Linked DNA regions of Homo sapiens. The protein of the gene in region 1 interacts with the protein of each later gene in a pairwise test. Each region holds a gene or a part of one and is shown in the gene's direction. Other genes may lie near its edges. The genes, in order: CAMTA2, CDH1, DLST and CALM3.

What was found.
Region 2: the proteins of CAMTA2 (region 1) and CDH1 interact in binary tests that used the Homo sapiens proteins (3 or more experiments, as listed by UniProt).
Region 3: the proteins of CAMTA2 (region 1) and DLST interact in binary tests that used the Homo sapiens proteins (3 or more experiments, as listed by UniProt).
Region 4: the proteins of CAMTA2 (region 1) and CALM3 interact in a two-hybrid assay, tested with the Homo sapiens proteins (2 studies listed by BioGRID).

What each region holds. Positions count from the first base shown.
Region 1 is NC_000017.11:4,983,990-4,992,457, reverse strand, and holds the start of CAMTA2 (calmodulin-binding transcription activator 2), read left to right. Parts: upstream 1-4,782; 5' UTR 4,783-4,828; coding exon of another isoform or gene 4,829-4,865; intron 4,866-4,996; exon of another isoform or gene 4,997-5,499; coding exon of another isoform or gene 5,500-5,504; intron 5,505-6,171; coding exon of another isoform or gene 6,172-6,235; coding exon 6,236-6,266; intron 6,267-6,474; coding exon 6,475-6,578; intron 6,579-8,468. Other genes in the region: protein INCA1, read left to right, coding at 2,193-2,306, 2,529-2,568, 2,834-3,030, 3,514-3,679, 3,904-4,053. UniProt on the Homo sapiens protein: Transcription activator. May act as tumor suppressor.
Region 2 is NC_000016.10:68,740,067-68,747,752, forward strand, and holds part of CDH1 (cadherin-1 isoform 1 preproprotein), read left to right. Parts: intron 1-2,412; exon of another isoform or gene 2,413-2,507; intron 2,508-7,686.
Region 3 is NC_000014.9:74,884,629-74,892,314, forward strand, and holds part of DLST (dihydrolipoyllysine-residue succinyltransferase component of 2-oxoglutarate dehydrogenase complex, mitochondrial isoform 1 precursor), read left to right. Parts: intron 1-957; coding exon 958-1,006; intron 1,007-4,466; coding exon 4,467-4,519; intron 4,520-4,646; coding exon 4,647-4,721; intron 4,722-5,268; coding exon 5,269-5,324; intron 5,325-6,427; coding exon 6,428-6,539; coding exon of another isoform or gene 6,540-6,598; exon of another isoform or gene 6,599-7,430; intron 7,431-7,686. UniProt on the Homo sapiens protein: Dihydrolipoamide succinyltransferase (E2) component of the 2-oxoglutarate dehydrogenase complex. The 2-oxoglutarate dehydrogenase complex catalyzes the overall conversion of 2-oxoglutarate to succinyl-CoA and CO(2).
Region 4 is NC_000019.10:46,603,745-46,611,383, forward strand, and holds the end of CALM3 (calmodulin-3), read left to right. Parts: intron 1-2,082; coding exon 2,083-2,113; intron 2,114-4,079; exon of another isoform or gene 4,080-4,452; coding exon 4,453-4,596; exon of another isoform or gene 4,597-4,737; coding exon 4,738-4,844; exon of another isoform or gene 4,845-5,101; coding exon 5,102-5,237; exon of another isoform or gene 5,238-5,261; intron 5,262-5,353; exon of another isoform or gene 5,354-5,380; coding exon 5,381-5,409; 3' UTR 5,410-7,038; downstream 7,039-7,639. UniProt on the Homo sapiens protein: Calmodulin acts as part of a calcium signal transduction pathway by mediating the control of a large number of enzymes, ion channels, aquaporins and other proteins through calcium-binding. Calcium-binding is required for the activation of calmodulin.

The sequences.
Region 1 (8,468 bases):
TTAAAAGAATTAGCCAGGCATGGTGGCACACGCCTGTAGTCCCAGCACTCAGGAGGCTGAGGCAGGAGGATTGCTTGAGCCCAGGAATTTGAGGCTGCAGTGAGCTATAATTGGGTCACTGCACTCCAGCCTGGGTGACAGAGTGAGACTGTCTCAAAAAAGAAGAAGAAAAAAAACGGTTTGGATTTTATTCAGTGGAAAAGTTTTAAGGCAGAGAGTGACATGACCAGCCTTTTTTCCTTCAACTTTTTTTATTATGGAAAATTTCAAACAAACACAGTAGAGAAAATAGTATCATGAACCCCATGTACCCTTTTCAGTCAGCTTCAATAATTATCATTGTATGGATAATCTTTTCATCTCTATACCCATCTAGCCCCCTATTTCTCAAATTCTTTTGAAGTACATCTCAAACCTTATATTATTTCGTATGATCATCTCTCACAGTTCTGTGCAGAATATATTGTTGGGGGATGGGAATGGAAGCAGAGACGGGGGGAAGAGACCATTGCAACAGTCCAGGAAGGGGAAGATGACCTGAAATATATGGTGGTAGGAGTGGGAATGATGAGGAGTGGTCAAATTCAGGTACACAGTATTTTAGATGTAAAACTGACAGGAACTGCTGATGGATTAGATGTGGGAGGTGAGGGAAAGTGAGACATACCATGTTTTTGGTCTTAGCAACTGGGCATTTGAGTGCTTTTCATTGAGAGGAGGAAGGTTGGGGAGGAGATGTTGAGTGGAGCCCAGAGAGGAACCAGGGCTGGATATATAGATTTGGGAGTCATCAGCTTATTGACAGCATGGTACTGGGTGAGATCACCTAAGAAGAGATGAAGACAGAGAAGATAAAGGGCCCCAGGCCTAAGCCCTAACATACTCCATTTCTTAGAGATCAGGAGGGCAATCATCATTCAGCCTGTGGGGTTTGGAAGTGACGAGCAGTGTTCTCAAACAGCTCTGCACACTCCTATTTACAAGGATATTAGTCCTTTTGAGATGGGGAGACAAATGAAGTAAACAGAGGTTCTCTCCCCTGGATCCTTGCATTGACCTAAATGAATCCTATCTGTCATATAACCTGAGTAGCCAAGGCCTTCCTCTTTAACAACTCTGCTTGCTAAATATTACCTTCTCTAACTATGAGGTATAAAGCAAGCTTGTCCAACCTGCGGCCTAGGATGGCTTTGAAGCAGTCCAACACAAATTCATAAACTTTCTTAAAACGTTGAGATTAGGCCGGGCACAATGGCTCACACCTGTAATCCCAGCACTTTGGGAGGCCGAGGCGGGTGGATCACCTGAGGTCAGGAGTTCAAGACCAGCCTGGCTAACATGGCAAAACCCCGTCTCTACTAAAAATACAAAATTGGCCGGGCGTGGTAGTGGGTGCCTGTAATCCCAGCTACTCGGGAGGCTGAGGCAGGAGAATCACTTGAACCCGGGAGGTGGAGGTTGCAGTGAGCCGAGATCGTGCCATTGCACTCCAGCCTGGGTGACAAGAGTGAAACGGTCTCAATAAATACATAAATAAAATAAAATATTATGAGATTTTTTGCAATTTTTTTTTTGAGACGGAGTTTCTCTCTTGTCACCCAAGCTGGAGTGCAATGGCGCGATTTCGACTCACTGCAACCTCCTCCTCCCGGGTTCAAGTGATTCTCCTGCCTCAGCCTCCCGAGTAGCTGGGATTACAGGTGCCCGCCACCACGCCTGGCTAATTTTTTGTGATTTTAGTAGAGACGGGGTTTCAACATGTTGGCCAGGCTGGTCTTGGACTCCAGACCTCAGGTGATCCACCCACATCAGCCTCCCAAAGTGCTGGGATTACAGGCATGAGCCACCACGCCCGGCCAGTGTTAGTGTACTTTATGTGTGGCCCAAGACAATTTTTCTTCTTCCAATGTGGCCCAGGAAGCCAAAAGATTGGACATCCCCGATATAGAGCTTAAACTCAGTGAGATCTGAGGGTCAAACTATAGCCAATCTCCACCCTCAACCCAGCTTCAATTTCCTTTCAAAGCAGAGGCCTTACCACCTTCTTCAGCTAAAGTGGTTAAGAGAGGACATGGCCCGAGGGAACCTGGGCAGCTTTATAGTCCCATGGAAAGATGGCCCCTGAATCCTTGGGATGAGTAGACTGCTGTAAGGGAAGAGCCAGACCCGAGCCTACCTTGTCCTCACCTCAGGTGTTCCAGGGTGGTCAGCCGATCTCCACCCCCAAGGTTGCCTTCCCAGAGCCTCAGACCCATGCCCCAGCGTTATGGAGATGTCTTCTGGAAGAACCTTAATCAAAGGCCCACGTGAGTAGAGGAGAAAATGGAAACTAACTGGATGTGGTCTTAACTGGATTAAACTACCATAAACCCATATAGCAATAGGCCCTAGTCTGCGGTTAATTTCCCACTGGCTGGTGGACATTGTAGCTCCTAATGACAGAAAGGAGGTCGGGAGAGATTATTAAAGAAGCAATATGGATGGACATGTCCCCTCTGCACTTATAGCCCCCTTTTTGTTCTTCACAGCCCCACTTGGCTGGAGGAGCAGCACATTCCACCCATGCTGGTAAGACAGACCCTCTGCCGTTTAACATTTCTCTGTTAAAATTGCACCCACTGCTGTCCTGTCCCAAGCTCTCCTTATTACCGCTTCCCTCTGTTATTCCCCAACCAGTGCACTGACCAGGCCTTCCTTTCTATGAATCAGTCATCATGTTTTCGAGATCACAGGGGTCTTCCCAAGACCCCAGACTCCCTACCTAGTTCAATCCAAGCTCCCTTGAGAGAGCCAGTTCTTCTTTCTAGCTCTTTTTCCCCATTCTCTGGCACAGAGAGCCACTGGTTGCTCCCAGCTTGGTCTGTATCCTCCTGAGCAGCTCCCACCCCCTGAAATGCTTTGGAGAAGAAAGAAGAGGAGGCCATGTTTGGAAGGAATGCAGCAGCAGGGCCTTGGGGGAGTCCCCGCCCGGGTGAGGGCTGTCACTTACCACCTGGAGGACCTAAGAAGGCGTCAGAGCATCATCAACGAGTAAGGAAGGGAGACATCTGGGTTCTGGGAGTCATGCAGGATTTGGGGGCAGAACAGTTTGAGCTAAGGAAGGGGTTGACAGCTTTGAGGGGAGGTTTGAGGGGAGCTTTGAGGGGAGGTTGCTTGGAAGGAAGCTGTGGGCTTTGGTGTGATTGAAACAGATTTCTGTAATATGGAAAGAAGGAGGGAACTGCAGTAAGGAGGATGAGCCACATGAGCTGGAAGGAGTGGAAACTAGATCACTGAAGACAGGAAAGCAAACCATAGAACTGGAGGACAGTGGGGAGGTTGGGGTCACCTCTGGGTTCCTAGACAATATGCTTCAGTCTGAGGGGAGCAGAAAATTGGGAGTGGAGGGTTAAAGGTCAAATGACAACTCCCTGGAGTCCCAGCAGGAAGTATTTCAGAACAGAAAGGTGAAGAATGGAGAGACAGGAAGCCTGGCCTCCAGGCACTTCTCTCCTCAGCCTAAAGTCTCCACAGACTGAAGAAGGCCCAGTGGGGCAGCTCTGGGGCTGCATCTGAGCCAGTGGTGCTTGGCGAAGAGGGCTGTGGATTCCCCAGCACCAATGAATACCCTGATCTGGAAGAGGAGAGAGCAACCTATCCACAGGAAGAGGACCGTTTTCTCACTCCTGGCAGGGCCCAGGTATTGTTGGAGTGGAACTGGGTGGAGTGAGGGAGTGATGTGGGTCTCTGGTCTTGCATGGAGATGCAGAAGCTGAGAGCCAGGCTGGAGAGCTGGATTTGAGAGAAACAAAAATAACGTAGGTGAGAACCAGAGACTTCGAGGTACCTAAGCTTGGGTACTAGGAAATCTGGAAAGAAGACCTACTTTTCCATTTTCTTTTTCAATTTCTCTCATCTTGACAGCTGCTTTGGTCTCCCTGGAGCCCCCTGGATCAGGAGGAGGCTTGTGCCTCCAGGCAGCTGCACTCTCTGGCCTCGTTCAGCACTGTCACAGCCAGAAGGAACCCCCTTCACAATCCCTGGGGGATGGAGTTGGCAGCGTCTGAAGAGTAAGGAGAAACCACCGATGCCGAGAGGCTAGTGGTGCCCCAGGGACCCAAGACTAGTTCCGTCACTAGAGTCACCCTCATTGCTGACATGAAGGCGTTTCCCCTTCCTTCGTCTCTCCAACTGCCTTTCCCATCCTCTGAACTAGGCATTAACAGCCCCCGTGGGCTCCCATCTCAACCCACCGCTCTCACAGGAGCACCCCAAGTCCTGTTTTCCTCCAGGCCCCGCTCCTGGCCTTGTATTCTCTCTGCTCTGTTATTAAAAAGCAAGCAAGTGGAGCCCGAGTTGTCTTTCTTCTTGGGATGCAGCGATGGAGAGGCCAATGGGGAAGGAGGGCTCCTTTCGCTTTCTCGAGGACCCAGCTACAATGAAGTCGGGCTGGGTCCCCAGACAAGGAGTCTTGTCCGAGGCGAGAAGGGTCCTGCTCCCAGTCCAGCGTTCCTCGCCCGGCCCCTCGGGTTCCAGCACTGGTGGGCTGCCCCCGCCCCGTTCTCTCGAACTGGGAGTCAGTCGGCCGAGCTTCCGCCTCCAGGACCCTGGAATCCTGCCCCTCAGTGCTGCTGCCCTTTTGGGGACTTCCCAGCAGTCTGTCCCTCGGCCTGGCTCAGAGCCCTAGAAGCCGAGTCCCTCTGCCCAGCGCCCCACCCAGAACTCCACGTGTGCTGACCCCAGGTTCCCTTCCTGACCCTCATCCCCTTAATTGGGAGGCCCCGCCCCGTGCGCAGTGACGTTAGACGCCGCTGTCAGCCGGCGCTGGGGGGGGTCGGTGTGGGGTAGAATGGCCGCTGCCGCCGTCACCCGCGGGACCCCGGGAGGTAAGAGCCAGGGCCTCTCGCCCGCCTCTCCGCCCCCGCGCCAGAGGGCGCAGCTCCTCCAGGTCCCGACGCGGAGCGCCGCGCCAGGGACCACCGTCCCTCTTCCCGGTTCGCCCTCACCTCCCGCTTCCGTCCTCCTCCCCCGCGCCAGGGGGCGCCGCTCACCGCAGGGCCCCACGGCGGACCAGCGCGTGCCGGGGACTGTCCCGGAGACCCCCGCACCCGGCACCTGCACTGTCCCTCGCCCACCGCGTGCCCGCGGACTCTGCTCCCGGCTTCTCCAGAACATCCCTCTATGCGGGCGGGACCCTCCCACCTCGGAGGTTCTCCTGGGACCACCACTCCGCCGGGGGGCCGCCCAGAGTGCCAAGCGTCCGATCCGGCGCCGCCCAAGTGCAGCCCAAGGACCCGCTCCCGCTCCGCACCCTGGCAGGCTGCCTAGCCAGGACTGCGCACCTGCGCCCTGGGGCGGAGTCCTTACCCCAACCCCAGCTTCACTGCACATAGCCGAGCCCGACGGGCCTCCTCCCATCTCCATCCTGGACACCTGGCGGAGCCCGTGCTGAGAGCCTCCGCCAGCTCCCATCTGTTCCCCGAGGAGGGCGGGGGGCTCAGGCTGGAGCCAGAGCGGTAGATGGGGTAGGCTAGGCCTGGAGGCCAGGGGAGGCAGAGGCGTTTGGGGAGAGGGAGCTACGTAGAGAGGGCTGTCAGCCGGAGGGTGGGTTGTCCTGAGGGTGGGAATCTGGGTGTCTGGCCCAGATTCTATCAGGTCCTAACCAACCTGGAGGAGAGAATAGGTTAGGTTCAGTTATCAGATCTGCCCTTCCCCTTGGAAAAATCAAACAGAGAAGGAACTCAGGGCGTGTCTTCTAAAGGCCTAGCTTCTACCGGAGGTAGAATCTCCTGCCCTGCCCCCAGGATCCAGGCTCTCTTGCCAAACCATCCTCCAAGGACCGGATGGCCTGAGTCCCAACCCCCAGGACCTGACCCAACCATAGCCCCAGTCTGTGCAAAAGCTCAAGGTTTAGGGCCTCTGAGGCCCAAGCCCTGCCAGTCTTCTCCCCGCTCCCCCACCCCAACCCATTTCTTCCTGCTCACTCTTCCTGTCCAGTCTGCTCACTCATATTGGCTCCGGGCACTGTGTGTTGTTCTCTCTTCTACTGTCACATCACAGTCAGCCCCTCCCTCCCTTTCCTCATCCTTCCCAGATACTATGACCCAGTTCTATACCCACTCCCTACCTCATACTTCTCATCCTGGATTAATGTGGGGGCTTCTGCCATGACCTTGTTCTCTCCCTTCCCAGCACAGACTCCCCCTCCCCCCGGCCCCTCAGGCCGGGGGTGACCTTGCCCCCTGGAGCCCTCACCATGAATACCAAGGACACCACCGAGGTTGCTGGTAAGTTCACAAACCAGGTTCCCAATGTGGCCACAGCCTTTCGTTCTCCCCACGCTTTAGTGGCCCTCTAATTCTTGGATTTTCTGTTCTCCTTAGTGAGGTTTCAGTTTTCCCCAGTGCTCTGTATTGCCTTCAGCCCTTTCCCCTTGGACTATCACAGGGATGCCCCAGGGTAGCACACTAAACCCTCCCTTCTAATTCCCTTTAGAAAACAGCCACCACCTGAAGATCTTTCTCCCCAAGAAGCTGCTGGAGTGTCTTCCTCGCTGCCCGCTGCTGCCTCCAGAGAGGCTACGGTGGAATACAAATGAGGTTTTCTAGGGAGGCTGGGGGTTGGGGCCCAGCAAGACCTAGTAGGCTGGAGGAGGGTGAGTGGGGGGTCTTTCCGTGTCTGTCAACACTCCTAAGTGCAGAGCACCATTCTAAGCTCTTTGGGGATCCTAGGAGAGGTATAAAAACATGGATCTTGGCCGGGCATGGTGGCTCATGCCTGTAATCCCAGCACTTTGGGAGGCTGAGGCGGGTGGATCATCTGAGGTCAGGAGTTCAAGACCAGCCTGGCAAACATGGTGGAACCCCGTCTCTACTAAAAATACAAAAAGCAGCCAGGCGTGGTGATGTACGCCTGTAATCCCAGCTACTCGAGAGGCTGAGGCGGGAGAATTACTTGAGCCAGGGAGGCGGAGGCTGCAGTGAGCTGAGATCACGCCACTGCACTCCAGCCTGGGTGACAGAGTGAGACTCCGTCTCAAAAACAAAAACAAAAAGACATGGATCTTGAAGGAGCCCTCTTTTCTGTGGCATAGCCACCTGGGTAAAAACAAAAGCTACTGCCAGTAAAGTATTCCTTACATACTGGGCACCGTGCTAAACATTTGGCCTGCCTTGTCTCATTTAATCCTCTAACGGTTCTATAGAGCAAGCCCTGTTATTGCTCCTATGTTATTGATGAGGAAACTGATTTACCTCATAGTTTATCTAACTTACTCCAGGGCCTTTTTTTTTGAGACGGAGTCTCGCTCTTGTTGCCCAGGCTGGAGTACAATGGCGCGATCTTGGCTCACTGCAACCCCCGCCTCCTGGATTCAAGTGATTCCCCTGCCTCAGCCTCCCAAGTAGCTGGGATTACAGGCATGTGCCTCCACGCCCGGCTAATTTTTGTTTGTTTTTTTTTTGAGATGGAGTCTCGCTCTGTCGCCCAGGCTGGAGTGCAGTGGCGCGATCTCGGCTCACTGCAAGCTCTGCCTCCCAGGTTTACGCCATTCTCCTGCCTCAGCCTCCGGAGTAGCTGGGACTACAGGCACGCCACCACACCTGGCTAATTTTTGTATTTTTAGTAGAGATGGGGTTTCACTATGTTGGCCAGGCTGGTCTCGAACTCTAGACCTAGTGATCCGCCCATCTCGGCCTCCTACAGTGCTAGGATTACAGGCATGAGCCACCACGCCCGGCTGGAACCTTTGTTATTAACCACCACTGATACTGGCTCTTTCTGGAGGAGGCACAGTCCTTGTGTTACACATTTTCTGTATTCTGCATACTTACTGCCTTGTATGTAGTTGGTTGTTGATATTTATCAATTTGATGTCAGAAGAGGACTGTCAGTAAAACGATGCGTGTATGTGTGTATGTGTGATTGTTGTAAGTGCTATAGAGCGTTTAGGAAGGTCCAGTGTGGTCAGCAGGGCTTCATGGAGCATCTGAAAAGGGGTTTGGTTTATAGAATGGCTATGATTTCCAGATATGGAGAGGTGTGCACATGGTACCTGCCTTGTAGGGCACTAACATGCAGGAGGTAACTATTCAAAGCATGTTCAGGAAGGAATCAATGGATCCATCTGGCAGGAATTGTAGGAGCAATATGGGTAAATAGTGGGAACAGTGAAAGTTTGATCCCTTGTTGGGAAGAACCTTGGAGTCAGGCTAAAGAATCTGAAACTCCTGCCAGGCACAGTGGCTCACGCCTGTAATCCCAGCACTTTGGGAGGCTGAGGCGGGTGGATCACGAGGTCGGGAGATCAAGACCATCCTAGCTAACACAGTGAAACCCCGTCTCTACTAAAAATACAAAAAATTAGCCGGGCGTGGTCGTGGGCGCCTGTAGTCCCAGCTACTCAGGAGGCTGAGGCAGGAGAATGGCATGAACCCAGGAGGAAGAGCTTGCAGTGAGCCGAGATGGCGCCACTGCACTCCAGCCTGGGT
Region 2 (7,686 bases), on another chromosome or scaffold:
AGTTTCTCTTCTGGTTTCACTGAATCCCAAGTGCTTCCTTTATATCAAACCACTTTCTCCTCTCTCATGATTTTACTTGATTGGGTATCACAATAAGAGGCATTTTTTTTTTAAGAGAAATCACCCACAATTCCCCTGAGGGAACACCTCCACTGTGTCATTCTTCCAGTCTTTGACCACATGAATCTTTAGCAATCACGCTGTTGTCTTTACATTTTTTTTTTGAACTTTGGAAGTCATTCGAAGTTTTTTACAGAGAAACTACAGCTCGACTGATGAAGTATATTTGCTCTGTGTGCTCTAGAGCTTTCTATTGGATCAGAAGTTATCTCTAACTCCTGGGCTCAAGTGATTCACCCGCCTTGGCCTCCCAGAGTGCTGGGGATTGGATATTTTGATGTCAGTGGGCATTGAGGAGTGGCTTCTCGGGGAAGGCAAACTTGATCCAGTCTTGGAGAGCAAGGCAGGGGCTAGAAACAAGCTTGTATCTGAGCATGCGTCTGGGGTGTCCCAGTGCTAAGGCTGGTGACTTTGTTTTCCTGCACCAAGATATTTGGTAGCACCAAGGGTGGGTTGGTCTGGTTTTTATTTCTCCCTTCTAAGCTCCTGTGTTTGACCAATAATATTATTACATATTAACACTAATATGTTAATAATTAATAGTGACACGTATTCACTTTTGCCTCAGACTCTGGGGCAAGTGCTTCACATATTTTACCTCATTTAGTCTTCACTAGAACGTTAGGAGGGTGGGCACTGTTATTCTTCCTACTTTGCAAGTGAGGAAACTGAGGCATAAAGCAATTCTGTAATCTGAAGCATCCGCAGTTGGTCTTTTCTCTTCCTTTTTCTCCTTGTTTTTCACCTCAATAACCTGAAAAAACAAAAACAAAGAAAAAAGGTGTTTGGGGAATTAGTGTCCAATGTGAAGTAAGCTGAGAATGGAGGTGTTGACAGGGTGGGACCTCCGAGAGGGGGTGGTGATGATGGAGATGGGTCAGACCCGGGGGAGGTGGCGGGGGACCCTGGGACTGGTGATTTAGTGGGAAGAGGCAGCCTTCACACAGAATCCGCAGGCCTCTGGTGTGGTTGGTTTCAGTTCCCTTTATGTTCACAGACCCCCACCCCCACACAACAGATTTCCTGACATTTAATATTTGTTTTGGCTTTTTTGGACTGTGGGGTCTCCTTGTATCAGTCCAATGTGGAGTCGCCCCAGGATGGAAGTGCCCTTCTGGTAAAATCACACGTTCAATCTGAGGAACTGGCTTGTGATTTTAAAAGGCCGCTAGGACTTGGGATGTGGCCTGACTCTCTTTGGACAGTGCACGGAAGTGAAGGGATGGATGTAACATTGGCACCAGGTTTAGACATTGGCTTCATGGAGAATTTACTCCATGGGAATTTTGAAACTTGAAACCTGTCACTTTTTGTGCACAGGCAGCTGTAGGGTCTTAACTCAGGGGACTTTGGAGTGTTTGCTAGGGTCATTCCTCTGCCCCATGCTGTGGCTGACCCCATGATCTCAACCTTGTATTTATTCCATTGGTTTATCTCCAGCTTCTAGAATGAAGACCTTTACAAAAAAAAAAAAAACCAAACTCAACTGTAATAAACCAGTTTTTGTTTTGAGACGGAGTTTTGCTCTTGCCGCCCAGCCTGGAGTGCAGAGGTGCGATCTCGGCTCACTGCAACCTCTGCTTCCTCAGTTCAAGCAATTCTCCTGTCTCAGCCTCCTGAGCAGCTGGGATTGCAGGCACATGCCACCATGCCTTTGTATTTTTAGTAGAGACAGGATTTCATCATATTGGTCAGGCTGGTCTCAAACTCCTGACCTCAGGTGATCCGCCTGCCTTGGCCTCCCAAAGTGTTGGGATTACATGTGTGAGTCACCATGCCTGGCTAATAACCCAGTCCTTTAGAGTTGCTGCTTATTTTCCTTCTTCATAGCACACACCGGTCTGAGAAACCCAGGCTATTAGACAGTTTGGGATCTCTGAAGTATTAGCCTAGTAACCACAGCTGTAAGTTGACTCAGGCGCGGAAAAAAGAAAAGCTGGCAGGCTTTCCCAGTGATTGTTTTCTTCCTTTGCTTGCTCTGCAATCTGGCCTTGGAAACACAGGGCCTATATTTCAGTGTTGAGGTTTGGCTGCTTGAGGGGTTGACCTAGTTCACAGGCACCCAAACTTTGTGGATTAAATACACCCATTTCCCCTCCTTTTTTTTTTTTGAGACGGAGTCTCGCTCTGTTGCCCAGACTGGAGTGCAGTGACGTGATCTCGGCTCACTGCAACCTCTGCCTCCCAGGTTCCAGTGATTCTCCTGCCTCAGCCTCCCTAGTAGCTGGGACTACAGGTGTGTGCCTCCATGCCTGGCTAATTTTTGTATTTTTAGTAGAGACAGGGTTTCGACTACGGCCATACCACCCTGAACGCGCCCGATCTCGTCTGATCTCGGAAGCTAAGCAGGGTCGGGCCTGGTTAGTACTAGTACTTGGATGGGAGACAGGGTTTCACCATGTTGGTTAGGCTGGTCTACAATCTGGAGTTTTGCTCTTGTTGCCCAGGCTGGGCAAACTCCTGGCCTCAGGTGATCCGCCCACCTTGGCCTCCCAAAGTGCTGGGATTACAGGCGTGAGCCACTGTGCCCGGCCATTTCCCCTCCTTTCTGAAGGATGTGCTGAACGTTTCAGAAAACAGTATGCAGCCTCCCTAATACAATTAGACTTTTAAAAAGCAAACCCAGAAACCAGCTTTGGGATCACCTTACATCATCAGATCCCCACCCCCTACCCCTCAAACTCATAAAAGTCACTTCCCCAATTACTCATGTCTGTGACAAAGGTTGATCTGAGCTTACTGGGAAAGAAGACCAGTGGGCCGCCCTCCTGGCCTTGCCTTTGTGTCTCTGGAGGTGCGGAGGTGGAAAGTCTTGGGCCCGGCAAGGCCATGTAAAGAAGGCAGGCTGCTGCTTCCTCCCAGTGGGGCCCTGCCTGCCCCTCTCTGCCAGGTGGTTATGGAAATCCCTGTTTGCTCTCCAGGGCTTTTTATTGGGTGAGGCTTTTCTTCCAAAATGCTCACCTTGTGTCTGTTACACATTCCCTTCCAAGGTAGCCCCAGATACGCCAGAGGCTGAAGCTCTCGTATCTCCCAGAAGCTGCCCAAACCCTAAAATCCCCGAGAGGCACCTGTCCCAATCCAATCCTTGCTGGGTCTCTTTCTTTCTTTCTTTCTTTCTTTCTTTCTTTCTTTCTTTCTTTCTTTCTTTCTTTCTTTCTTTCTTTCTTTCTTTCTTTCTTTTCTTTTCTTTCTTTTGAGACGGAGTGTCACTCTGTCGCTCAGGCTGGAGTGTAGAGAGGTAGGATCTCAGCTCACTGCAACCCCCGCCTGCCATGTTCAAGTGATTCTCCAGCCTCAGCCTCCTGAGTAGCTGGGATTATAGGCACGCAGAAGCATGCCCAGCTAATTTTTGTATTTTTAGTAGATTCGGGGTTTCACCATGATGTCAGGCTGGTCTTGAACTCCTGAGCTCAAAGTGGTCTACCTGCCTCAGCCTCCCTAAGTGCTGGGATTACAGGCGTGAGCCACCGAGCCGGGCCCCTTCCTGGGTTTCTATCCTGCCTCAGCTCTATCTCCTTTGAGGGCACAAGGCTTTCAAAAAGGAGAATGAAATCATTCAGCAGTGGCTGTTTAGGATCCTTCAGCGAGGAAGTACAGGAAACTAGGTTTGAATTTTAGCCACTAGCTATTTGACTTTGAATAAGTCACTTTACTTCTATGAGTCTCAGTTTCCCCACCTGTAAAATGGGGCGGTAATACTTATTGATCTATTATGAGAATTAAGTATGTACATTCATTTAGTTCACAAAAGTGAGTGCCTGTTGTGTGTTAGCACCAGGCTAGACCCTGAGGTTACGGCAGATTGGACGGAACATACATGCCAATGGGCAGGAATGTAAAGAGAGAAAGTAGAGAGAATATTTTCAACAGTAGTTGATATTTCTTAGGGACACAGTAAACTCTCAATGTTATTTTGAGCAAATGAATGAACACATGAATAAATCGCTATCTTGGCCAATATTTTTCCCTCTCAAACTCTATGGACTTGGTCCAGCCCTTAAGGTTGATTGTAAATGGGCGGGGAAGAATTTGGTGGGTTAGAACCTTCCATTATGCTCTGTGTGTGCTGGGGATACTGTGTTCATAGCTTCCCTCTGAACAGCTGTGCAGGGCAGGCAGGGAGATCTCAAACCTGAGTCTGGAAATGGGAGGGCATATAGCCATTTTTAAGTGTTTTCCACCTTTGGTCAAATAAAAAGAAATCTGTGGTGCATGCTCACTCTTTCTCTCTCTATCCCCATCTCTAGCCATCTCCCTTTCTTTCTCTCTTCCTCTTTGTTAATGTAAGTTTCCCTAGGCCAGGGATCTCAGTGTCCCAGCTTGTTCTTGTTACTCTTGGGGGACTGGGGTTTAGGCCTCCTCCCTTTCTGCACTTTTCATCTTCCTCCTTCCTTCCTCTTACCTGCCTCCAATCCTCCACTTCTGCCCAAGATTTGGGTGGCATCTTCCCCAAATTCAGAAGGTTCTTGAATCAGACTGCCTAGATTTCAATCCAGACAATGTCACTTCCCAGCCTAGGGATGTCAGCCAAGGACTTAGTTTCCCTCTCTGTAAAATGAGCATAATAGCATGGAGACATCATAGGATGGTATGTCAAGCGTTCAGTGAATATGAAATATTAGAGCCCCAGGAGGACTTGGTGCTGTCTGTTTGAAAGTCTCCCATGTTTTACGTTTGGTTCAAAAGATCCCCTGCGCTCCCTCTCACCCAGCAAACCAGCCAAACCAGTTTCTTCACCCTGCCTGCTTCTGTGTTAAGCAAACAGTGCACTGCAAACAGTGACTAAGCCTAGTGCCTTGTTAGGAAGAAACTGGCGTTTTTTTGCTTGCCACTGTGCAGGGTGCTCAGGGTGGACCGGAACGGGTTTGTTGTGGCTTAGGAAAGGGGACCTGCTCGTGGAGGTTGTGTAGAACTGGAGTGGGAGGAGTGGGGCAAGGCGCAGCTAGGGCCGGGGGAGTCGGGATGATCTTGAACTTGTCAGCTTCTGCTTGGCTTTTAAAAGTTATCCAGGCCAGATAGATGCTGTGGCTCACACCTGTAATCCCAGTGCTTTGGGAGGCCAAGGCCGCAGGATTACTTGAGCCCAGGAGTTTGAGACCAGCCTGGGCAACGTGGCGAGACCCCCATCTCTACAAAGATTAAAAAAAAAATTTAGCCAGGTATGGTGGCGTGCACCTGTGGTACTAGCATCAAAAAAATGCAAAAATTTGCTGGGCGTGGTGGCATGTGCATGTAGTCCCAACTACTCAGGAGGCTGAGGTGGGGGGATTGCGTGAAGCCCGGGAGGTCGAGGCTGCAGTAAGCCATGATTGCACCACGGCACTCCAGCTGATAGAGATCCTGTCTCAAAAAAAAAAAAAAAAATATATATATATATGTATATATATATGTATGTGTAATATATGTGTATATATATGTATGTGTATATATATATATATATGTATATATATTTCATGATGCACATGCCTAAGAATACCTGTCTGTTCTCCTGCTGCCAAAAACGCTCTGTCCCAGCCCCTGAGATCCTTGTGGCTAAAAATCAAATCACCTAGGGCACTTCATGCAGACTTGCCCTCTTGCAGATTCACTGAGAGCCAATCTCCAAGGGTGGAGATCTGAACTTGACATTTACTTACTTATTTATTTTTTGGGATGAAGTCTTGCTCTGTCACCCAGGCTGGAGTGCAATGACACGATCTCAGTTCACTGCAACCTCCGCCTCCTGGCTTCAAGCAATTCTCATGCCTCAGCCTCCCAAGTAGCTGGGATTACAGGCATGCACCACTACGCCTGGCAATTTTTTTTGTATTTTTGTAGAGACGGTTTCACCATGTTGGCCAGTCTGGTCTCAAGCTCCTGACCTCAGGTGATCTGCCTGCCTCAACCTCCCAAAGTGCTGGGATCGCACGCGTGAGCCACCACACCCAGCCTTGAATTTGATGTTTTTAAAAGCTCCTCAGGCCAGGTGCGGTGGCTTACGCCTGTAATCTGCACTTTGGGAGGCCAAGGCGGGCAGATCATGAGGTCAGGAGTTTGAGACTAGCTTGACCAACGTGGTGAAACCCCATCTCTACTAAAAATTCAAAAATTCAGCTGGGCGTGGTGGCATGCTCCTGTAATCCCTGCTACTTGGGAGGCTGAGGCAGAAGAACTGCTTGAACACGGGAGGTGGAGGATGCAGTGAGCCGAGATTGTGCCACTGCACCCTAGCCTGGGCAACAGAGCGAGACTCCATCTCTAAATAAATAAAATAAATAAGCAAGCTCCTCAGATATCTGCTGCCACTCAATGCATTTCCCTGGACAATCCCAGGGGCTAGATGTTTGATGAGTAAATACCCCAGCCAGGATGTGGGCACCTGGTTGTCCAGCCCAAGGCCAGGGATCCCAGGTCACACCCTTGATCAGGGAGGGATAGGCTGGTGCTTCTGCCATGCCCAGGATTGAGAACTCTATGGATGCAAGGAGGGGTGGATGGGAGGCTGGGTGCAGTGGCTCATGCCTGTAATCCCAGCACTTTGGGAGGCCAAGGTGGGAGGATCACTTGAGGTCAGGAGTTTAAAACCATCCTGGCCAATATGGTGAAACCCCGTTTCTGCTAAATATAAAAAAAGCTAGCCGGGCGTGGTGGTGCATGCCTGTAATCCCAGCTACTTGGGAGGCCGAGGCAGGAGAATCACTTGAATCTGGGTGGCGGAGGTTGCAATGAGCGGAGATTGTGCCATTGCACTCTAGCCTGGGCAACAGAGCGATACTCCATCTCAACAAACAAACAAACAAACACACCAAAGTGGGGTGGATGGGTGTGGGAGTGGGGGACCCAGAGAAGTATCCAGTGCACCCAGGCCTAAGACTCACCCCCTACACTCAGGGAGATTCCAGAAAATCTCCAAGAGAGACCTCTCAGCAGGTAATTCCAGTAGGCTCCAAGAATGCCACTGGAATGAGAATGTGTTCAGGGGATGCCAGGAGTGGTCAGCTTCACCTGCTGGGCCTTGATGAGTAAGAGGGTGTCTTCCATGCAAGGAAAGGGAAAGGGCACTCCAGGAGGAGGAAGTGGGGTACCCAAAGGTGTGGCAGGGTCATGGAGGCAGAAGGCTGGAGCTGTGCCTTCCTGGGCACAGAAAGAGGAGGGAGGAGAGGGTCCCAGGATGAGGCTGCAGAGGCAGCTGGGCCAGGGTACCTCTGGGCCTTGGGCCGTGGGTCATGGAGGGTTTTCTCTTTCTGGGCTTTTCATAGGCAAATTATTCACCCGGTTAAAAAATAAGTTTAAATATACATCTTCATATATATATGAAAAAGCTTGTATATATGTCTGTATGGCAGACAGTGAAGTCTCCTTCCCACCCCAAACCACGCTTCACCCAGTTCTTCCCTGGGGCACAGGGAACAGATTTCATTAGTCTCTTGTGTATCCTTTTCAGTGTTTCCTTATGGAAATACAAGCATAGTCTTCTTTCTTTATGCCAGCGTAAATTCCTAACATATGATCCTTTTACACAAAGCATAGCATATGATAGCACTGCTCTGTACCTTGTTTTTCTCCCAGCAACGTATCTGTATGTTC
Region 3 (7,686 bases), on another chromosome or scaffold:
CTGAATTGGACTCCAGGTTCCCAAAATCAGTGTGAGCCGCCATCTATTCTAGTTCAAAAACATACTATGCTTAGAATTTGCACTGCATAGTCATTGGCTGCTGGACATAAAGGTGACTGGCTTACCTATCTTGGGATGCTTGTGAGGAGGTGGGCATAAGAGAGGGCTAGCTCTCATTTGGTGTGTCCTGAGCCCATGGTTCAGAAAGAGTTGTTAATCTGAAAGAAAAAAGACATAAGAAAGAATTCAGAAGAGGCAGCTGTAGTTACTAGTCATCAGTTGGGGAAATGCAGTTAACTATGATAAGGACAGCTGGTGGGCAGAAAGGGTCTCTCACCTTGTTGAGAGTGACCAGGGTGGAAGACTTCAGAAAGGCATGGGAAGTCAATAAACTGAAAGATGGGGACATGATTTTCTCAGCTCTAGGACAAACTGGAGACCCCGAGCCTAAAGTAGCCAAGTCTTTGCTACTAGGATTCAGGTGATAAGATTTCCAACCCAATCTTTTCAAACCCAGACCAAACATCCTCCTTGCTTCTCAAATTGGGTTATGTATAGTCACAGGATAAGCCATCCCATGTCTTTCTCAAGCTTCAGTTGTATTTGAAGACTTGGCGAGTAGAGACATTTTATTATGAAAACATACAGGAATAATGAAAAGTTCTGGCTTTTTAAGGTAGATGAGATTATATAATCACTTTGGGCTGTGCCATCAAATTTTTTCTCTTTCCTCCCCAGCCAAACACATACCCACTCGATCTCACATACCCATTTGCTCTCTGCCACTAAGGCTACTTTGGAAAAGTTTGAGAAGCAGGACTCTATGATAAAGATTATATCCGTTGCCGTTGATCCTGCTCTGTCTCAGGGTTGGGGGTGAGCAGACCTTTTCCATTCCCAGCATGTATCCTTTGTGAGATAAGAGTTGTTGGTTAAGAGTTATTTTGTTTCTTGCAGGGGTCTCCTTATGCCAGGGACCAGGTTACCCTAACAGCAGGAAGGTTGTGTAAGTATCACTGGGGAGTACAGATATGTGGCCACGGGTTATTTATTTAAAGACATAAAGTTCTAAATTTGACCATCTGATTTCTTCACTGGCCTCCAGACCTAGAAATTGAGGTGATTATGTTGAGTCCCTAGACTAACCTCAATGTTCACTTTTCCCATGTGATGTTCCTTGAGCATCAGCTCCGTGTCAGGTTTTGGACTGGGAGTGTGCCCACTCTCCACAGGTGTTTGGATTATAATGAAAGTTAAGTTGGAATCCTCTTTTTATGGGATATAGAAGGGTGCTCCTAGATATTCTGTTTGGATGTAAGTGCAGCTGAAAGGCTCGAGGTTACATTTATTGTGGAGATTGAGAGCATCCTCTCAGTAGCATAGTTACTCATTTTTAAAAACAGTAAAAGCATAAAACTGGTTGAGTCCTGGGACTGACTGACTAGTTTGGAGGGAATGCTGTTATTGCATAATGCAGAGTTTGGAGAAAGGCTACCCATGTGTGTTTCAGATTAACTTCTGCGTATGAATGTTGCTTAAATGCTGCTTTGCATTCCAAGTGTTTTTGTGGTGGTGCTAAGAGAATGCTCTCTAGTAACCTGTTCAGCAGCTGTCAGGCTGCTTACTCTACAGGGAGAATCCTCAAAGTGAAGAGGTCAGCGGATGAGCTTCTTACTTACTCTACATCACAATGAGGGTTTTTGTTGTTGTTGTTTTGAGACAGGATCTTGCTCTGCCACTTTGGCTGGAGTGCGGTAGCCTGATCTTGGCTCACTGCATCCTCAGCCTCCTGGGCTCAAGAGATCCTTTCACCTCAGCCTCCTGAGTAGCTGAGACTACAGGCACATGCCACCATGCCCGGTTGTTTTTTGTATTTTTTGTAGAGATGGGGTTGTTTTGCCATGATACCTGGGCTGGTGTCAAACTCCTGGGCTCAAGCAATCCATCCACTTGCCTTAGCCTCCCAAAGTGGAGGATACAGGCGTGAGCTATGGTGCCTGGCTGATTTTTTAAAATTTGAGTAAATGTTGCACTCAGTACTAGAAATATGAATCCCGGTGTTATTTTGGAGGGCAGTTTGATAGTCATAAGTCTTTGAAGTGTGTGTACCTTTTCTTTTTTTCTTTTTTTCAAGATGGAGTCTTGCTCTGTCACCCAGGCTGGAGTGCAGTGGCGCGATCTCGGCTCACTGCAGCCTCTGCCTCTCGGGTTCCAGCAATTCTCCTGCCTCAGCCTCCTGGGTAGCTGGGATTACAGGCGCACGCTACCACACCTGGCTGATTTTTGTATTAGTAGAGACGGGGTTTCATCTTGTTGGCCAGGCTGGTCTCTGAAACTCCTGACATCAGGTGATCCGCCCGACTCAGCCTCCCAAAGTGCTGGGATTACAAGCATGAGCCACTGCCCGGCCTGTGTGTTCCTTTTCATCTAGCAATTCCATCTCTAGGAATCTATACTGAAGAACTCCTGGTATATTTATCTCAGATTTAATATCTGATAATATAAATATTATCAGATTTATCTTAAAATGGCAAAGAGCAAGGGATTGGCTAAACTATAGCATGTTCACATGTTCACACTATGAAAAGTGGGAAAAAGCAGGTTACAAAATAATTTCATTTTCTACTGTGTGGTATGATCCCATTGTAAGTATTCTTTTTGCTATTTCTAATATTCTGTAGTGAACATCTAGTTATTTAGAGATTCAAAATGTATTACTCATCTGCAATCAAATGAAAATTGGGGCAATCATGACTCTCTACAATAAATACACTAAATATTTGAAAGTAAATAATGAAGAAAAAGTAAACTTTGTGTGGGATCACCCCAATCATGTCACCCTAATCCAGTATCTTTGTGTGTGTTGTGCCTTTTTTGTGAATAAGGTACCCACTTTATTTAATAAATCTTTTATTGTAAAACAATTTTTGGTTTTATGTTTTTACTAATAGTATTATATTTACATGATTAAAAATTCAAAAAGTAAAAAGGGTGTCCATGAGAAGACTTTTTTATCCTTGTCCTCTAGCCCCCCGAATGCCTCTTGGGTAGTGGTGGCCACCACTCCGGGTTCCTGGATGACTTGCAGAGCAGCCTCTGCACTTGCATGTTACCTGTTAGTTCTTGCCTATAGGCATGTACTTTACAAGGTTACAAACTATATGTAGAACAATTTGTATTCTTGTAGTTTTTAAATATCTTCATTTTTTCTTGGTTATACATAGACCTTATAGTTATTTTGACATTATAAAAGTAAAAATACCTAAAGACAACTTAAATCTCTTTTACTTTTCTATTATAAAAATGCTTGTTGTGGAATATTCAGACAATCCTGAAGTGTAAAAAGTGAAAGTCCCCATCCAAATCATTCTCCCAAATTGTGTAAGTGTGCAACACATAACCAGAGATACCATATATGTCTACATCTCTCACCCCTCAGAGGTAACCACTGTTAATGGCTTTGTGCATACAGGGTGAGCTGATTCTCCAGTTTATATTATTTACTGTAAAGGCCATATCAGTAAACGCCTTGGTCTTTGAGGTTCGTTTTGAATGAATCCAGAATGTGTTGATGTGCTGTTTTCTAGCAAGAGAACCGAGTAGGAGATACCATATGGGGTTTGTGTGTGGTTTTTTTGTTTTTGGGTTTTTTTTTTTTTTTTTTGGCATAACACCTTGTTTTACTTCCGAGTTAACCTTGTTAATCTTGCTGCCTTATCTGATCTAAATCTGTTATCTTGAGGGCAGAAATTCCATTATACCTTGCACAATGGCTTGTACCCTGGGCAGGCCGTAAATCTATCTCGGATTTAGTTAAGGAAGAGACCTGGCTGGACATGGTGACTCACTCCTGTAATCCCAGCACTTTGGGTAGGATCTTTGAGACCCGTCTGGGCAATGAAATCCATAGTCTACAAAAAGTAATTTAAAAAAATTATCTGGGTGGCATGTGCCTGTAGTCCCAGCTACCCGGGAGGCAGAGGTGGGAGGATCCCTTAAATCCAGGAGTTTGAGGTTACAGTGAACTATTATCATGCTACTGCACTCTAGCCTGGGTGACAGAGCAAGACTCTTATCTCTTAAAAAACAAAAAACCAAATCAAGAAGCTAAGTCATTTCGGTCTGCAAAGGACCAAGGTGCTTATTTTTTTATTGAAAGAGCCAAATGTAAGTCTGTTTTGTGAGAGTTGGCATTGCATTGCAGCACAGGGGCCTGAGCATACTTGGGGAGCTCACCATTTAAGGTACCTGGGTCGTTAGGCTCTACTCCAGACCTGCTGAGTCAGAATCCCTGGGGGAGAGGCCTAGACAAGTGAACTTTGAAAAAGTTCCTCCCCAAGTGACACTGATGGACACCCCTGGTCAAGAGTCACTGTTTAAGGGGAAGGTGACCCATGGGGCCTTAACTAGACTAAAATGTGAGTGGTTCGCCTGTTAAAAGGAGTTAACGTGTGTTTCTTTTGTAGCATTAACAACAGTGTCTTCAGTGTTCGCTTTTTCAGAACTACAGCTGTATGCAGTAAGTACCTGCTTTCTTGGGAATGGAATTTTATGGGAAGAGCAACAATTGATTGAGTTTAATTAAAGAAAAATATTAAAAAGGAAAAATGAACTACTTATGATTTTCTTTTTTGCATTTTTCCTAGAGGATGACTTGGTTACAGTCAAAACCCCAGCGTTTGCAGAATCTGTCACAGAGGGAGATGTCAGGTGGGAGAAAGGTAAGATTTAGTTTCCTATTTTTTTTTTTTTTTTTTTTGAGACAGAGTCTTGCTCTGTTCCCAGCCTGGAGTGCAGTGGTATGATCTCGGCTCACTGCAGCCTCTGCCTCCCAGGTTCAAGTGATTCTCCTGCCTCAGCCTCCCGAATAGCTGGGATTACAGGTGCCCACCACCATGCCTGGCTAAGTTTTTTGTATTTTTAGTAGAGACAGGGTTTCACCATGTTGGTCAGGCTGGTCTCAAACTCCTGACCTCAGGTGATCTGCCCACCTCAGCCTGCCACAAAGTGTTGGGATTACAGGCCTGAGCCACTGCGTGAGCCACTGCGCCTGGCTCCTCTCACTTCTTAAGTTTAAGTGCTATCTAAAATTCTCCCCTCCCCTCAGGATAGTTGTAGAATTTATAGCTCTGCCGTTTTCTTTACATATGTACTTTCTGCTGGCCCTGTAGGAAAGGGTTCTTATAACATACCTGCCAAAATGGGTTTTGTGGCTACTGGAGGCTCCCCGCTAACAGGTAGCCTTGTAGCCTTTGATTGTCTTTTCAGCTGTTGGAGACACAGTTGCAGAAGATGAAGTGGTTTGTGAGATTGAAACTGACAAGGTAGGCTTATCTTATATTCGTACCAGCTTTTCATGGGCTTCCCTTAGTTAACCTAATGAAAGAAACAGGGACTTAACCATTGTTTAGAGATAATTTTTAACTAGCTCTAACTTCAGTTGTAAAATTATTGGATTTGTTCAATTTAAAAAAAAAACAACTTTTTACATTTAACTTTTTTTTTTTTTTTTTTTTTTTGAGACAGACTTGCTCTGTTGCCCAGGCTGGAGTGCAATGGCCTGATCTCAGCTCACTGCAACCTCCACCTCCTGGGTTCAAGCGATTCTCCTGCCTCAGCCTCCCTAGTATCTGGGCTTACAGGCGCATGCCACAACGCCGGGCTAATTTTTGTATTTTTTGTAGAGACAGGTGTTGCCAGGCTGGTCTCAAACTCTTGACCTCAGGTGATCTGCCCGCCTTGGCCTCCCAAAGTGTTGGGATTAGAGGCATGAGCCACCGCACCTGACCTGCATTTAACTTTAAATTGTTTGCTGTGTGTGTACTATGTACTTCATTTAGTAGCTTTAGTCTTGTAGTGTGTGGTGAGGGGGTGGGGAGGGTAAATAAGCTGTTTCCACTTTTTCCTGTATCACTTGGAAACATATTAACTGAATATTGCCTGAATGTTTCTGAGAAAGGACAGAAAGTGAATCTTCACAGTAGCGATGACTTGTTATCACCCTTGCTCTGAAATTATGGCCTTAGATGTTTGTGTGCAAGGCCTTATATATTGTGTTGCAACTCTTGTTACTCACTGGAGATACGCTGTTGTTGTTGTTGTTTTGAGACGTTTCGCTCTATCACCCAGGCTGGAGTGCAGTGGCACGATATCGGCTCCACCTGCCAGGTTCAAGCGATTCTCGTGCCTCAGCCTCCCAAGTAGCTGGGATTACATTTTTGTAGTTTTTAGTAGAGATGGGGTTTCACCATGTTGGCCAGGCTGGTCTTGAACTCCTGACCTCAAGTGATCCGCCTGCCTTGGCATCCCAATATGCTGGGACTACAGGCATGAGCCACTGTGCCTGGCTTCATTGGAGATTCTATACAGCTAATTTTCTAATGCTGGATAAACATTTGGACTTCCTCCATCTGTCTTCCTCTTCCAGACATCTGTGCAGGTTCCATCACCAGCAAATGGCGTGATTGAAGCTCTTTTGGTACCTGATGGGGGAAAAGTCGAAGGAGGCACTCCACTTTTCACACTCAGGAAAACTGGTGGTAAAGAAGTTCTCCTGGTGGTCAAGGTCTCCAGTGTTCCCTCTTGGGATTGGGACTGAGCATAATGTGCTAATTCCCCGATATGTCAAAGACTCTTGTCATTCCAGCTGCCCTTAGTTGAGGGAATAAGGGGTAAATTTATATATAGTGTGAACTTCAAATGTCAAATTCTAAAAGAAAAGTGTATTTTTTAAAAAATAAACCTTATACTCTGTTCTTTCCATGGGTGTTTCTTAGCAGGAGCTGAGAAACTGGACCTTTTCTTATAGATATACAGATTGAGCATACCTAATCTGAAAATTCAAAATCTGAAATGCTCCAAAACTGAAAATCCAAAATCTGAAATGCTTCAAAACTTTTTGAGCACTGACAGAATGCTCAAAGGAAATGCTCATTGTCTTTTATGGGGAATTCAGTGTTGTTTCTTTTCACATCTGTTCTCTCATATCTCTAGGAAGGGTTGGTATTTCTTTTGGGAAGAAATGAGAAACGAATTTGTACTGGACCTGATAGGATTAGAGATTAATAACTTTATCTGACTCTTAGTTAAATTTTATAACCACTAAAAAGTCTATTTCTTTTTCCTAAGCGAGAATCGTACCCGTAGACCAACGAGTCACAGAAGTCTATTTCTTTTTCACTGTTACACTAATAAGGCAGATAGACCGCATGATTGAGGTTAGTCAGGCAAGACCAGAAGCTCAGAGTAGAAAACATGTATGGTAGAAGGCTGGGAAATAAGGTAGTCCTCCTGTTGCAGAAGTTTGTCTTAGCACTAACCCTGGATATAATGTCCAGATGGGTGAAAAACAGAAACAAACATTTCATTTAAAGTTGTGAGATTATTACTTGGCCACTTCAGTGATTTATGAGTCATCCTGGATGAAGTGCTTTCTTAAGCCTAAGTCAACCCTCGATGACTATTTTATTTTTTGAGATGGAGTTTCACTCTGTCGCCAGGCTGGAGTGCAGTGGCCTGATCTTGATTCACTACAACCTCCGCCTCCGGAGTTCAAGTGATTCTCCTGCCTCAGCCTGCCGAGTAGCTGGGACTATGGGCACATGCCACCACGCCCAGCTAATTTTTGTATTTTTGGTAGGGACGGGCTTTCACCATGTTGGCCAGGATGGTTTTGATCTGTTGACC
Region 4 (7,639 bases), on another chromosome or scaffold:
TTGACCAAGCAGGGAAGTGGGTCTCCAACATGGGAGGGAGAGCATCTGACAGGCCCTCCATGCAGAGCCACGCCTATTTGCAGCAACCCTGTGACAGAACTGAACATGGCAGTGCCTCATCTGCATCTTCCAGTCTTTTGGTGGAGACTGGCAAACGGTGGCCTTCAGAGCCGCTCGGGGCAGTCTGCAGCCTGTCACAGCCTCCTCGCCCCCACCCCCAGCCCCTTACAGTGCTGCCCAAAGGTCCGGGGAGCTGGACTTCTTGCAGGGCGGAACAGTGGGCTGGGAAGGCCCTGACCTGGCTCGCTTTTTCCATTCTAGGCCAGGGGAAAGAATGAAAAGCAGATGGGATGGCAGCCACCTCCCCACACTGCTGCCCTCCTCTCTGTTCTTTCCCTGACCCTCCCTGGGCATTGCCTGGTCTCGGTAACCAGAAGCCCATCCTCCCTTCTCACTTTCCCTAAGCCTCTTCCTCAGGTGTCAGGACCTAAGGGATGGCTCCAGGCTTTTTTGTCCATGGTGGGAGGTGGGGGGCAGGTGGATCAAGAGGCTCATGGGCCTGGGGCTACCAGGTTGGCATTTAGAAGCCCAACCACCCTGTCTTTTTTGAAGGCAATGCAGAAGAATCTTCATTTGGCCTCCCCACCTCCCCTTTACACTTTGGACTTTTCCAGAATGTGCATGTGTGCCGTTTTCTCCCTTCCTCTTTCCCCCTCCCTAAGCCCTCTCCCCTCTGTGATCATCATTTTGATTACCCCTCCCATTCTGCCTATTTGGGGCTTGCAAGTTCTTCTTCCGTTAGGTTTTTTTTTTTTTTTTCTAACTTTTTTAGATCAGTGATTGTTAATATTTGGGACGGGGATGGGGGTAGGGGAGGCAGGCAGTGGTTTGTTCCTAGCTTCTGGAACCTCTCCGTAGAATACTGCAAATTCACATAATAGTCTGCTTCTATTTCTGAGGCTCTCAGACTCGAGACTAGAACATGCTATAGACTTGGAGCCCCTTTCCCTGATTGTGAAAGGAAGGGGAACAGACCCACCATGGTCCCGGGATGGTGGTGCCTTCTTCACAGCATCAACAAAAACCAGGGAAAATGTGTCTTTTGGCTGCTAAAGCTAAATGTTGGGATTCAGCCTCCCCAACCCCCCAGCCCCGCTCCTGCCCCATAGGATCACTATGCCTGGCTGATGCCCAGCACACCAGTGCAGGAGAAGCCAGTCCCCGCATCTCCTCCCCACCCCCAAACCCCGCATGCAGCAAGGGCTGCCTGCCACCCACTGGCCAGTCCCCAGAGTGCCCAAGCTGGAAAGGGTTAAAAACTGCAGTGCAAGCCAGCTTCAGTCCTCTGCTGCTGCCCGCTGCAGCCCTCTCCCTGACGTTTGTCCCTTCTGCCCAAAAGAAACAAAACAGAATGGCCCTGTGCCCTCACTGTGCGCAGGGGGTGGAGCGCCTGCCTCCAGCCTGACCAGAGTTCTTTAGGTGCTTGAGCAACTCGGGCCGCCGGTTAGGAGAATTTTTGCCACTTGGGTGGACTCTGCCTGAGCCAACCGCCTCCAAATAGGTGACACAGAAACTAGCAGAGATAGCCCCAGACATCGTCCCTCTGCCCTACCCAAGGACTGGCCTGCTTCAGTTTGGAGCCTTCTAGAGCTTCTTGATGAGGCCTCCAGGGCAATCGTTCCCTTCACTCGGCCTCTGGGGCTCTCACTGATGAGATGCAAACCTGTGCCAGGCCTCACCAGCGCTGCTGGTTTGGGGCTGGGGCAGGCTTTTCTCCCGCCCCTGTGGCTCCCACATGCTGAGTTGAGATTGGAAGCCCGTGGGTCTGGGCAGCTTCATCGGGCCGTGCGTCCAGCAGGCCTGAGTGTCCAGCCCACCCTGGTACCCAGCTTTCTGAATCACCAGACTTTATCATCAGGCGCTGGCTCTGCCTCAGACCCTGACTCTGGCATGCTCCTCCCTGGCCCGGCGGGAATGGCACGTGGAGCTGGCCTCACTGGGGCCGAGGGTCTGGGCTGAGTGAGGAAGATGCGTCCGTGCTGTCCGGCCTGGTGACTGACTTTCCCCTTCATGCTTTTACAGGCTGACCAGCTGACTGAGGAGCAGATTGCAGGTGAGTCTGCTATCCCCCTCATCTTAGCTCAGGAAAGCCTCCACATCCCCAGCCAAATCTTAGCCACTGAGGAGTGACATCTGATGGGTGAACCTGTGTATCCCTTGTGTCACCTAACACTATGCCTTGTGCCTAGAATGCTGATAAATGTGTGTAAGAGCACACCAGTGCCCCAATGACACGAAGCCCCATGGCCCTGAGACAGGCCTTTACCAGACACCAAAGGCTGTGTTCCTCTCCTGGGCCTGGGTCATCTAGGGGCTTGATATCAGTGGCTGCAGGACGAGCCCAACTCTCTCTCCCAGCTTCAGCCAGGTTGGCTTAGAAGGTGAGCTCCCTGCCTCCCTGTGGGGCCTGCAGAGCTCCTGTCCCACTTTAGGAGCCGCCCAGGAGCTGGCTCGTCACTCCCACCTCTGCGCTTGCCTGCGCTTTGCACTTCCTTTCGCATGTGCCTGCGCCTGCCTGTTCTGCTGGCGGAAGTGCCTCCCCAGTGCTTTGCATGGGCAGCTCCTTCCCGTCCCTTAGCTCAGATGTCCCCTCGGGGAGGCCTTCCCTGACCCCCATCTCAAGTACACAGCCTTCCTTTACTCTCCTTCACATCACTTTATTTTCTTCATAACCTTTCTCGCTGTCTGAAATTATTTTCTTATGTCTTCACCTGTTGTATCTCCTGTTACTAGATGTGAGTTCCATTGAGTTTGGGACTTGGTTTTGTTGGTCCCTGCTATAGCCTTAATGCCTGCCTAGAACGTAGTAGGTCCTCCGCAAACTTTTGCTGGCTAAACAAACATCTCTCTCTCAGCAAGCTAGAAGAAATCCCTGGATCCCATCTAATTCATTTTTCTAACCCCTCCAAAACCCCAGAAGGGTCAGCTACAGGAACTATTGTGTAATTACAGATCCGTGCCTGCCTACCCGCCCATACTGAGCTGCCCGAGGACAGAGAGCAACTCTTGGTTTATCTCCATAGCCAGGGGCCAGCACACAGTAGACCAGAGTAGCGATCCAGAGAATGGGCCTCTGCTCCCCACCAGCTACCCAGCCCCCAGCTCTGCTGTCAGGTTCAACCGGCTGTGTAACAAGTACTAAAGGCCCAGCTTCTGCGGTGGGAGGCAGGAACGGACTTGCCTTCTCTCCTTTCTCCCCTCAACCCGCATCACAGAGTCACCTTTGCAGCTTCAAAATTTTGGCCCTGGGTGGCTATGGAGACCCCTGAGGAAAGCCAGAAGATGGCCTGGTTTAGTGATCATGAGCTCGGGGTGCCCCATGACCCACTCACTACCTGCCCTCCCCAAGAACAACAAGGCCTCAGCACAGGGAGGTGCCAGCCTCCCCAAAGAGACTCTTGCCATGTCCCCAGGGCCCAGAGGCTCAGGGCCACAGCTTCCCAGCTGTGCATGTCCCTCCCAATGCACCTGCCACCCATCTCCCAACTCTGGCCTTGTGCAACATAAACGGTCTGCTTTTCACCCTGTCCCCATTAGCAAACTGTCCACCGCCTCACCCCAGCCCACACCCTCTGGGAATAGGCTGCCGGACATCTGTTTTTGGAGGGCTTGGGGGTAGAGGAGCACCAGGTGCCAAAATGGGCCCAGTGGGAGGGCAAGAGCCATGTGCTTTTCTCCCTGCCCCTGATGCGGCCCCAGCTGTGGCCTTCCCACTCAGCACTGCTAGCTCCTCATCCTCCTGGCTTGGCAGCCGTCCCCTCGCTTTCCATCCCCCCATCAACCCCACGCACTGTCCGTCAGCCATGTTCTGCTGCCGACCACCCCCACGCTCACCACACGCAGTGGCTCAGCTCCTTTGGAAGCTGGTAGCACCCACGGCAAGGAACAGGGCTGCCAGTCAGAAGGGAGTGGATGCCTGCATTTCCTCTTCAGGCCGGCCAGAGGCATTCTGCAGCCTCCCCTCCTCGTCCCAGCCAGCCAACCCTGGCTAACACACTCAGACAAAGAATCCTTTCGGCTCTCATTCACTCCATGACTTTGGTTCATTTCATCATTTCAAGGGAGAAGTCAAAGCCAGGGACCAAACAGAAATGTAGAATCATCTAAGGACAGCTGTCAGACCATTTTCCCCACTGTCTTCACTGGCTGGCCAGAAAAATAGCTTCACCTAGCACAGTGTTGATGTTCAATAACTGTTGAATGAAGGTTGGAAGGGCTTTGCCCTGAGCACTGAGGAGAGAGAGCTGGTTGCGTGGGACTTGAAGTCTGTCTCAGTTTCTTTAGGTGGGACTGATGCCCTTGGCCTTCCTCCAGGGAAGGCATCCAGCATCCAGAGGTAAGGATTCTCCTGTGGACCTTGTGACCTCTGACTCCTCCCCCTTCTTCCCCCAGAGTTCAAGGAGGCCTTCTCCCTCTTTGACAAGGATGGAGATGGCACTATCACCACCAAGGAGTTGGGGACAGTGATGAGATCCCTGGGACAGAACCCCACTGAAGCAGAGCTGCAGGATATGATCAATGAGGTGGATGCAGATGGTGAGCCCCACAGAGCGCGTGGGCAGCCCTGCTCCTGGTCACCCCGAGTGACTGCAGGGAGCCTCTCTCAGGGTGATGGATGAGCCCGTGTCTCTCAGGGCCCAGGCCAAGAGCATTCTCCATCCTTTCCCCACCTTCCAGGGAACGGGACCATTGACTTCCCGGAGTTCCTGACCATGATGGCCAGAAAGATGAAGGACACAGACAGTGAGGAGGAGATCCGAGAGGCGTTCCGTGTCTTTGACAAGGTAAGCAGCCCTCTCCAGGGGCGGCTCTGAGACTGACGCCAGCCTTCAGGCAGACAGGCGGAACTGGAGCCACGGAGCTACCACTTCCAGGAGGTCCGGGTCCCGGTGCCAGCCTCATTGCCAACCTGCTCTGCCACCTCAGGCAGCCTCCCTCACTGTGCTCACTGCTGAGGGATGGTGATGACAGCCACCCCTCTCACTGCCTCTCTCCCCACCGGGAGAAGTGCCCAGTGAAAGGCTTTATCCCCAACCCCCAGGATGGGAATGGCTACATCAGCGCCGCAGAGCTGCGTCACGTAATGACGAACCTGGGGGAGAAGCTGACCGATGAGGAGGTGGATGAGATGATCAGGGAGGCTGACATCGATGGAGATGGCCAGGTCAATTATGAAGGTGAGTCAAGGCCAGGCTTGATCTCTGGAACAAGAAGAGAATCGCAGCTTCAGGAACAAGCCCCCAGATCCCTCTTGTTGGGGAGGGCCGCTCGCCACTTAGCCTGCCCGCCTGACCTCCTCTCTCTCTGCTTCACTCCACAGAGTTTGTACAGATGATGACTGCAAAGTGAAGGCCCCCCGGGCAGCTGGCGATGCCCGTTCTCTTGATCTCTCTCTTCTCGCGCGCGCACTCTCTCTTCAACACTCCCCTGCGTACCCCGGTTCTAGCAAACACCAATTGATTGACTGAGAATCTGATAAAGCAACAAAAGATTTGTCCCAAGCTGCATGATTGCTCTTTCTCCTTCTTCCCTGAGTCTCTCTCCATGCCCCTCATCTCTTCCTTTTGCCCTCGCCTCTTCCATCCATGTCTTCCAAGGCCTGATGCATTCATAAGTTGAAGCCCTCCCCAGATCCCCTTGGGGAGCCTCTGCCCTCCTCCAGCCCGGATGGCTCTCCTCCATTTTGGTTTGTTTCCTCTTGTTTGTCATCTTATTTTGGGTGCTGGGGTGGCTGCCAGCCCTGTCCCGGGACCTGCTGGGAGGGACAAGAGGCCCTCCCCCAGGCAGAAGAGCATGCCCTTTGCCGTTGCATGCAACCAGCCCTGTGATTCCACGTGCAGATCCCAGCAGCCTGTTGGGGCAGGGGTGCCAAGAGAGGCATTCCAGAAGGACTGAGGGGGCGTTGAGGAATTGTGGCGTTGACTGGATGTGGCCCAGGAGGGGGTCGAGGGGGCCAACTCACAGAAGGGGACTGACAGTGGGCAACACTCACATCCCACTGGCTGCTGTTCTGAAACCATCTGATTGGCTTTCTGAGGTTTGGCTGGGTGGGGACTGCTCATTTGGCCACTCTGCAAATTGGACTTGCCCGCGTTCCTGAAGCGCTCTCGAGCTGTTCTGTAAATACCTGGTGCTAACATCCCATGCCGCTCCCTCCTCACGATGCACCCACCGCCCTGAGGGCCCGTCCTAGGAATGGATGTGGGGATGGTCGCTTTGTAATGTGCTGGTTCTCTTTTTTTTTCTTTCCCCTCTATGGCCCTTAAGACTTTCATTTTGTTCAGAACCATGCTGGGCTAGCTAAAGGGTGGGGAGAGGGAAGATGGGCCCCACCACGCTCTCAAGAGAACGCACCTGCAATAAAACAGTCTTGTCGGCCAGCTGCCCAGGGGACGGCAGCTACAGCAGCCTCTGCGTCCTGGTCCGCCAGCACCTCCCGCTTCTCCGTGGTGACTTGGCGCCGCTTCCTCACATCTGTGCTCCGTGCCCTCTTCCCTGCCTCTTCCCTCGCCCACCTGCCTGCCCCCATACTCCCCCAGCGGAGAGCATGATCCGTGCCCTTGCTTCTGACTTTCGCCTCTGGGACAAGTAAGTCAATGTGGGCAGTTCAGTCGTCTGGGTTTTTTCCCCTTTTCTGTTCATTTCATCTGGCTCCCCCCACCACCTCCCCACCCCACCCCCCACCCCCTGCTTCCCCTCACTGCCCAGGTCGATCAAGTGGCTTTTCCTGGGACCTGCCCAGCTTTGAGAATCTCTTCTCATCCACCCTCTGGCACCCAGCCTCTGAGGGAAGGAGGGATGGGGCATAGTGGGAGACCCAGCCAAGAGCTGAGGGTAAGGGCAGGTAGGCGTGAGGCTGTGGACATTTTCGGAATGTTTTGGTTTTGTTTTTTTTAAACCGGGCAATATTGTGTTCAGTTCAAGCTGTGAAGAAAAATATATATCAATGTTTTCCAATAAAATACAGTGACTACCTGATTTGGCTCCTCTCCTCCTGTCTCAGTTTCTGGCCTGCCCCCCTCCAACACACATACACACCAACCCCAGCACTGACTCCTTTGGCCCAGAGGTGGAAGAGCCTCTCCTCAAAGCTGGCTCTGAAGCTGTGTCCAGTCAGTGCAGCCCAGTGGACGCCTCTGAACCACAGTTCTGATCCCAGCTAGATCGCAGGGTCATCAACGGCAGGGTCCTGTCCTAGAGATAGTCGCACAAATGGACTGAAAGGCGGGGACTGAGAAGGCTCCTCTGAGGCAGGCCCATCATGCCATGGGAGCACACAGAGAAGGGGTCAGCCCAGTCAGGTGGCAGGACTGAGCTGAGACCTACCTGAAAGATGGGCAGTCCCCTAGCCGGGTAGGGGAAGGACGGAAGGGCATTCCAGTTCGGGGGGACGACATGTATGGAAGCCCTGAGGCAAGAGAAGCCCAGACATCAAGGAACTGAAGGAAATCCAGCGAGACTGGGTGAGAGCCCCGAGCAGCTTGGAGCCCAGCCGGGTGAAGAGAGGAAGGCAGGGGCAGGCCCTGCAGTGGGTGAGCCTCTTGATGCTTTGGGGAGAGGGGTGGCATTCACTGCTTTA